Regions from separate parts of the Homo sapiens genome. Here region 1 is reported to be linked to region 2. The links are microRNA targets in miRTarBase. Many come from high-throughput screens and were not tested one by one. Region 2 holds a microRNA gene; the other region holds the end of a gene's coding sequence.
The links. The annotated mature microRNA hsa-miR-4697-3p reads UGUCAGUGACUCCUGCCCCUUGGU and lies in region 2 at 1,739-1,762, shown strand. An mRNA with a match to its seed (bases 2 to 7 or 8) in the 3' UTR can be bound and repressed. Matches are read on the target gene's strand: a 7mer-m8 pairs with bases 2 to 8, a 7mer-A1 pairs with bases 2 to 7 and ends in A, and an 8mer does both.

Region 1: the mRNA of HNRNPH1 is a reported target of hsa-miR-4697-3p. Seed matches in the 3' UTR shown: 7mer-m8 at 1,948-1,954.

The regions. Positions count from the first base shown.
Region 1 is chr5:179,612,872-179,616,271 of GRCh38, forward strand. HNRNPH1 (heterogeneous nuclear ribonucleoprotein H1) reads right to left here. Exons shown (of 14, transcript NM_001257293.2): 12 at 3,255-3,347; 13 at 2,675-2,724; 14 at 1,307-2,088. The coding sequence ends at 2,675. All of the region lies in intron 4 of LOC128966623 (a long non-coding RNA gene), which reads left to right. Among named protein-coding and RNA genes, the nearest start is that of HNRNPH1, 9.1 kb to the right of the region's middle. RefSeq lists an enhancer at 957-1,016.
Region 2 is chr11:133,896,868-133,900,267 of GRCh38, reverse strand. It overlaps MIR4697 (microRNA 4697), which reads left to right and starts at 1,687; the gene lies at 1,687-1,764. It overlaps IGSF9B (immunoglobulin superfamily member 9B), which reads left to right. Exons shown (of 20, transcript NM_001277285.4): 20 at 1-3,400.

The DNA.
Region 1 (3,400 bases), not on the chromosome of region 2:
TAACTTGTGCAAGCTCTCAACGTATCAAAGAGTGCAGTTAACTGATAAGGTGCTGAGGCAAGCGATGTCCAGTTCCCAGCAATTTACTCAGAGATGGTACCATCAAGCCCCCATGTTTGTCCGGTAGATAACACCCAGAGCCCCCTCACCTGTCACTTTGTGATGAATTTGAAGCTCCTGCACCTGGAACTGTTTTCCTGTAACCATTTGTCTTTAACTTTTTTGTCTGTTTTTCTTCCCTAAGATGGCTGCAGCTAGAATCCCCCTCCCCTCTCCAAACCAAAGTATAAAAGAAAATCTAGCTCCTTCTTCGAGGCCGAGATACTTTCATGCGGTAGCCGTCTCTCGGTCGCCGGCTAATAAAGGACTCCTGAACTCGTCTCCAAGTGTGGCGTTTCTAACTCGCTCAGGTACACCACTTGGAAGCAGCTTGAATACTTGCTATCATCATGTTGGAGCTTCGAACTACCAAAACGTGATATATTTAAGAGTTCATTTAAACTTCTCATGTTAGCTCTCAATCTCTACCTATCGTTCTACCTTAGGAGACTTACATGGAATTTTGCTTCCAAGTGGAATTGATTTTTAGGAATGACCCAAAAATACAGAAGTTCAAAACTTCCATTTGAAAACCATCTGTGAAGGCTGGGCAATGGCTCCAGCCTATAATCCCAGCACTTTCAGAGGCCGAGGTGGGCAGATCTCATGAGGTCAGGAGTTGGAGACCAGCCTGGCCAACATCGTGAAACCCCGTGTCTACTAAACATACAAAAAAAATTAGCCTGGAGTGGTGGTGGGCGCCTGTAACCCCAACTACTTGGGAGGCTGAGGCAGAAGCCCACAAGGTGGAGGTTGCAGGTGAGCTGAGATCACGCCACTGCAATCCAGCCTGAGACAACAGAATATAACTCTGCCTCAAAAAAAAAAACAAACCTATGAGCTTATGAGCTAGAAGAAACCCACATATTCATCACACCTCCCTTGCCTCCGGCACCTTCCCAGCCAAGCATGAAGGCCTCAAAGACATGCAGGCATGCAGTGAGGGCACTGGCGCCTCCCCCTTTGTTTTGTGCAAGTGCTTAATGAGTTACAGGCAGTTCAGATCAGGTCCTGTGCAGCCAAATGACATACAGCCCTTCCACCAGGGCCCCAAAGACGAGTTTACCTTCAGTTGCACTGGAGGGAAGACTGAAGACATCTACGCAACAGCCTCAACTGCCAAGCCAGAGATGTGGCCCTAGGCCCCAGGTGGGCACAGAGCACCAAGACTCAGTCCACATGACACTGAAGCACAGACAAGACAGAGTGCAGTTTTTAAAAGGAGGATTTATTTGACAAGTTTCACTTAGCGCAATATACCTAAAAGGAAATCACAATACAATGAAAGATTTAAATCAAGGCCTCAGAATTTCATACAAACACCAAGACCAAAATCCTAAGTATTGGTATTGCGTCTCAAATTTTTCCCATTAACTTAAAAAAAAAAAAAGCTTAAACTTACGTGCCTTACAGGTTATTAAATGAAACTAGAATTAACAAACATGCCAAAATGTTTCACTTTTAATAGTAGACACAGCTCCTATATTGTTTTACAAAAAAATAAAAGCATGTCTTTCAACATGCATCCAAAACAGTGTTCAATTTAACGTGGCAAAGGGCAACATTTAACATAATTCAACTGCTTTTACCTAAATACGCTTACTGCTTAAGTACATCCTATAACTAACTTGAGAAAAGCTGGAACTTAAGTTTAACAGTTATAGTTTACTCAGCTTCACTGTTACATCCTAGATGAGTATTGTATTCAAAAATACTGGGCCTTAAGTCTTCATAACAATCCTGATTTCCACTTAGAGTAAGCATAAATCACAAGCTTGTATTGCAGAAACTGTTAAACTGAAGTTTTCTTAAAGAAAAAAAAAAAAAAAAAAAAAAGGTTGACCAAGAGTCAGTGATCAGGATCGATCAATTACATTCCCCATCCACCACTCATACTGGACATGCTAGACAACCCTCCCATTCCGTTCACGCCCATAGATGCACGGCTTCCACTACTGTAGTAGCTGCTGTTCACTGCTCCTTGGTTACCTGCAAAGAGATCAATTTGACAAGTTAGGAGTAATATCAGACTACCAGTCAAATAAAATATAGTATTCCAAGAAAAAGTTTAAAAAGTATACGAGTACAAATGGCTGCTGTCCAAGTGGCGAGACGCATGTTTGGGAAAGGGGAATCCCGACTCCAAACAAGCCTCAATTAACCCCTTTTCTCTGCAGTACCAACTTGCCAGACTCTTGTGCTACCATTTTAACGGATTCTTCAGGATCAACATGAAAAATTAAGTTTAAAGGAAAACTAGTGTTTTTCAAAAATTGCAAAATTACTTCGTATTTTTAAAGCTAAACAAGGCATTTTTAAAAAAAATTTAACATAAACATTCACAATGTGTCCCTCGAATGGCATTTGAGAAAAGGGAGCACAGGGGAAGTCTCTTGCTTTTCCTATTCATGGTGGGCAGGAAGTGAGACAACCAAGCTGGACTAAAGGCAACTCACTGTGCCCAAATGGCAGCCTCCATGGAGTTAAGTCAGAGCCATTGACTGCTATAGAAAGCATTATTACAACATATCAGTATTTGCTATTGGGAATTTATATTTTTTGAGAAAATATTTACCTATGCAATGTTTGATTGAAAATCACTGGAGTTTTCCTGTAAAACTTGGTCTGCAAAAGGATTTTGTAGGGTAAGACTATAATACCAAAATCACCATTCTTTAGACCAATTGAAAAAAAATAAATAAAACCAATCCTAGGTTAACTGACTAATAAATACGATCCTGAACCCAACCACCATTCTACTATTTCAAATTCTCCCTCTGTCTAAAACTGACTTAATGCTAACCAAAAGACAAAAAAGTGAACAACTTTATTTAATGTTTTAATACATGGAGGCAGATATTTTCTGGCTCGACAGTATTCCAAAGCTGCAATGACTAGTTCTTAATTCAAAGAACACTTCCCCCTCCCAATGATTGTTTCTGAAAATTAGCTAGTAAAAACAGTTACATTTGGATTGAAAGCATACATTTCATAACCCAATTTCACCGAAAGGAGCCTGCATCTTCCCAACTAAAGGCACCTGCCTGCGACTTACTCTAAGTACAGTAACAGGCTTTACCATAACTTACTCTAAGTACAGTAATGAACAGGCTTTACCATAACTTACTCTAAGTACAGTAACAAACAGGCTTTACCGTATCCACTCATGCTGCTCTGGCCACCGTAGCCGCCTCCGTAACCCCCACTCAGCTGCTGGCTGGCTGGGCCCCCGTAGCTGGACTGGTTTGCTGTTAAGTTAAGAAAACATTAGAACCTTTTTTCTTATGTGATGTGGTACCTG
Region 2 (3,400 bases):
GCTCATCACTCAGAAAAGGGCAGTACTAACCCCTTTCCTAACCAAGACATGGCACTCCCTAAGAGCTCTTGTCTATAGAGTTTGGTCCTTAGAGGAAAGCAGATACCTTCAGCGTGAGAAGGGCTTGGTTGACAGTTTTGGGGTATTATGGGAAGAGTAGGTTGGGGTAAAGCTTGAGTCTAACTCTTGATCCTTACATGGACCTATGAGGCCCTGCCATTCAGTCAGGCACTGTCCTTGGGTCCTCAAATTAACTGCTGAGAACACTCCCCACTTTCCGAGGACGCTGATGGGAAATGGGCTCTGTCCATGCAGCTGGAAGGATCCAGTGCTGGTGCCACTGTCAGTGGCACCATCCTTGCCTTGAATGATCTTTCTTGCAGGCTCCTGCAGCTGAGTGTTTCTTGTAAGATTTTTCAGGGGGATTGGGCAAGAAGAAGAGGTGCAAATTCTGTTCCCTTCCTACCTTGAAGCCTTCCCAGACCACCACGGTCTCTGCACAAGGGAGGCTCCCATTACTGTTCTGTTGGCTTCTAGACCCACCATCCCCTCTCTTTCTGTGGACTCTGCCCGACTTCTGGCCACATGCAACCAGCAGAGTAAACTGCTCCAACACCTCGGGCATGTCCTAGGGCTTGCCCTCCCACCAGGGCCAGCCCAAGATTAGGTCCTCAGCAGCATCAAGGTCTGGGAGAGCCACTGGCCCACATGTCACCATTCTATTCCTCAGCCTCCAACAGGACTCTTCATTTTGGGGAGGGAAAGGGAAGATGGGGCCATAGCCCCTACCTTGAAATTGTACAGTGTGGAGGGGATGTTAGTGCCTACCTGTGACCTTTCTGCTCCACTGCTCAGCAAGATGAGGTAAGGTTGGGTGTCAGAGGGGACCTCCAGCTTCTCTGAAGAGCCAGCCCTTAAGGCACTTGGAGCAAAGGTCATTGAGATCAGCTTTATGTGGAGTAAGGAGGAGGCCTGGGAACCGCTTGTGGCATCAGTTGGGGCGACAGGTGGATGAGTGTGCTCTGATGGAGCTTTTACGGCCCACAGCCACTGCCAGGAGCCTGAGCTCTTCCCCATGCTTGGGACACGTTCCTTGGTCCCCACAGCAGAATGGACATTGAATTTTGGTGCTTTTCCCTTTGGTAGAAGGTGGAGGTATCTGAGGAGTTGTTTCTGTCTTGCTACCTCTGTCTACTATATAGAGCAAGAGTCGGGAATAGGGAGATGTGTGAGAATCACTCTCCCATGGATCAGTGTGGGCCCTGTCCCTCTTCCCCACTGTCACCAACCAGCAGCTTGGGGAAAAGGCTCTGTCGTGGATTTTTGCTGCCTGCTTCCCGCTTCCACTCTTCTTGGCGGTAGATGTTCATGGTGATCCACTTTGGGCGGTCTGAAAGTAGGAGGTGGGGGAAGAGGCAAGCCTGCACACACACTTCCTGTCCACAGGGGGTTGCCTGTGGCATTGGAGGGTGGAGTCTCAGAGTCCAGGGACTGGGAGGAAGGTACTTGATGGGATGGTCTTGATTCTGGAACTTTAGACTGAGGTGTTAGAAAGGGGAATTGTTGGCTAGGGGAGAAGAGCAGTTTAACGCTCCACTTGCTAAGTCGTCTGTATCAGTGTCAGAAGGTCTTGACCTCCCATTCAGATTTAATTTCCTAACTGCCAGGTGTGGGGCTGGGGATAGAGGGCCCAGAAGGGGGCGCAGTCACTGACGTGAAGGGACCACATCCCGCTTCATGTCAGTGACTCCTGCCCCTTGGTCTTCAGTGTTTTTCTCTTCCCCAGGAGGGACTTTGATCATGCAGGATAGAATTCTCCCATCGCACACCTGGGGGCAAGTTTTAGATGAGCTTCTTTCCTCCATTTCACCTGGTGGTCTGAGGACACACAGAGGGTGGGGGTGAGCAGGCAGTGTGGGTGGGGAGGGGCTACCTCCCCCAGACCCCTTACAAACTCTGTACCTCTCGGTGCGCGGCAGCCTCTTGCTGTAGTTCTTCTTTTCTGGATATGACTGTCAGTTTCGTCATGAGATTTCTTGCTCTCATTTCGAACTCTTTCTTTCTTCCACTTTCTTTGGGGGCGACCCCCGATCCATGCCAGGTCTTCCTGTGAAGACCGTTCCAACCTCGTTTCCATTTCTTGAATGTTGAGTATTACAACATCACTGCGCTAGGGTGCTTCATGGTGCTGTTCTCGAAGAGGCCAGTTGGGCTGAATCTCCTTCCTCCCACTGGCTCCTGATATCTTGCTGTATTTTGTCTTCTTTCTGATTTTTCCCTAGGGGTTTGGGGTGGGTGACTTAGGGGCGGCTTTTGTGTTCTCCCTCTCTCTCTCTTTCTTTTCTGTATGTATGTATGGACTGGTTAAAGTGAGTTTGGGCAGCTGACTTTATGGTATGGGTTGGCTGACTTTTGTTCAACATTAAAGACAAACCAACAAATTGTACAGCTGCACACAGAACACCTTTGAGTGTGAACTTGAATGGCAACTAGAGGCTTACTTTTTGAACTTCAGGTATGTAACTCAAAAGTAAATAAAACCACTATTTTTTCAGTAAGCTTTTTTTTCTTCTAAAAGATGACTTAGAAATCAAACTATAAGAACATGAAATCGGTGCTGTACCAAAGCCTTATATGAACATATTCTACACTCTGTATAACCTGTCTGTGAGGAGCTCCCTGCTCTATCACCCTCTTCTCAAAAGCCTGGGAATGCCAGCGCGTGCCAAGCCTGGGGCTGGGTCTTGGGGACCTGTGGGCCAAGGGCACCCTGGGAAGTAAAAGATGACGGTGAGGATGGGACACCCTTCTGCTGCCTGAGCAGACTGCAAGGAAACCAGATGTGTGTGTGTGCGCGCACCTGCATATATATGTGTGCATACCTGTGCGTGTGTGTGCGTGTGCGTGTGTGCACGCAAGAGAGTGAGAGCGGGAGAGAGCTCACAGGTGCACAGTGTCATGGTGAATGTACTAAGTACGAGCTTGAAGGGAGGCCCAGGTTGGCTCTGGGAGTGGGGCGGTGTGGGAATGAAGGGGGGATGCTCTCTCCCCTGTTTTCTGCCTCCTTCCCTTCTCCGTCAGGGAAGGGAGGTGTATTGGAAACAGCTACACTCTCAATCAGGTGCTTTTTTTCCCTCAAAATCTCCAAACTCAAAGCATTTATAAGGGGCCCTTCCAATGGGCAGGCACCCCCAGCCACCAAATCACAGACTTCCAAGAGTAGGAGGAACTGTCTCCTCCCGAACCCTTCCTTGCTTTCCTGGGGAAGAGGGTTCTTCCTGCAGGGACCCTGGGCATCCTGCTGCTGGGCCTGGGCCTATAGACTGCCCTGCCCCTTCTTCCCAAACACTGAGAAGACCCCGCTGGAGATGACCCCAAAGCCACGCCTGCTCTACGGCCC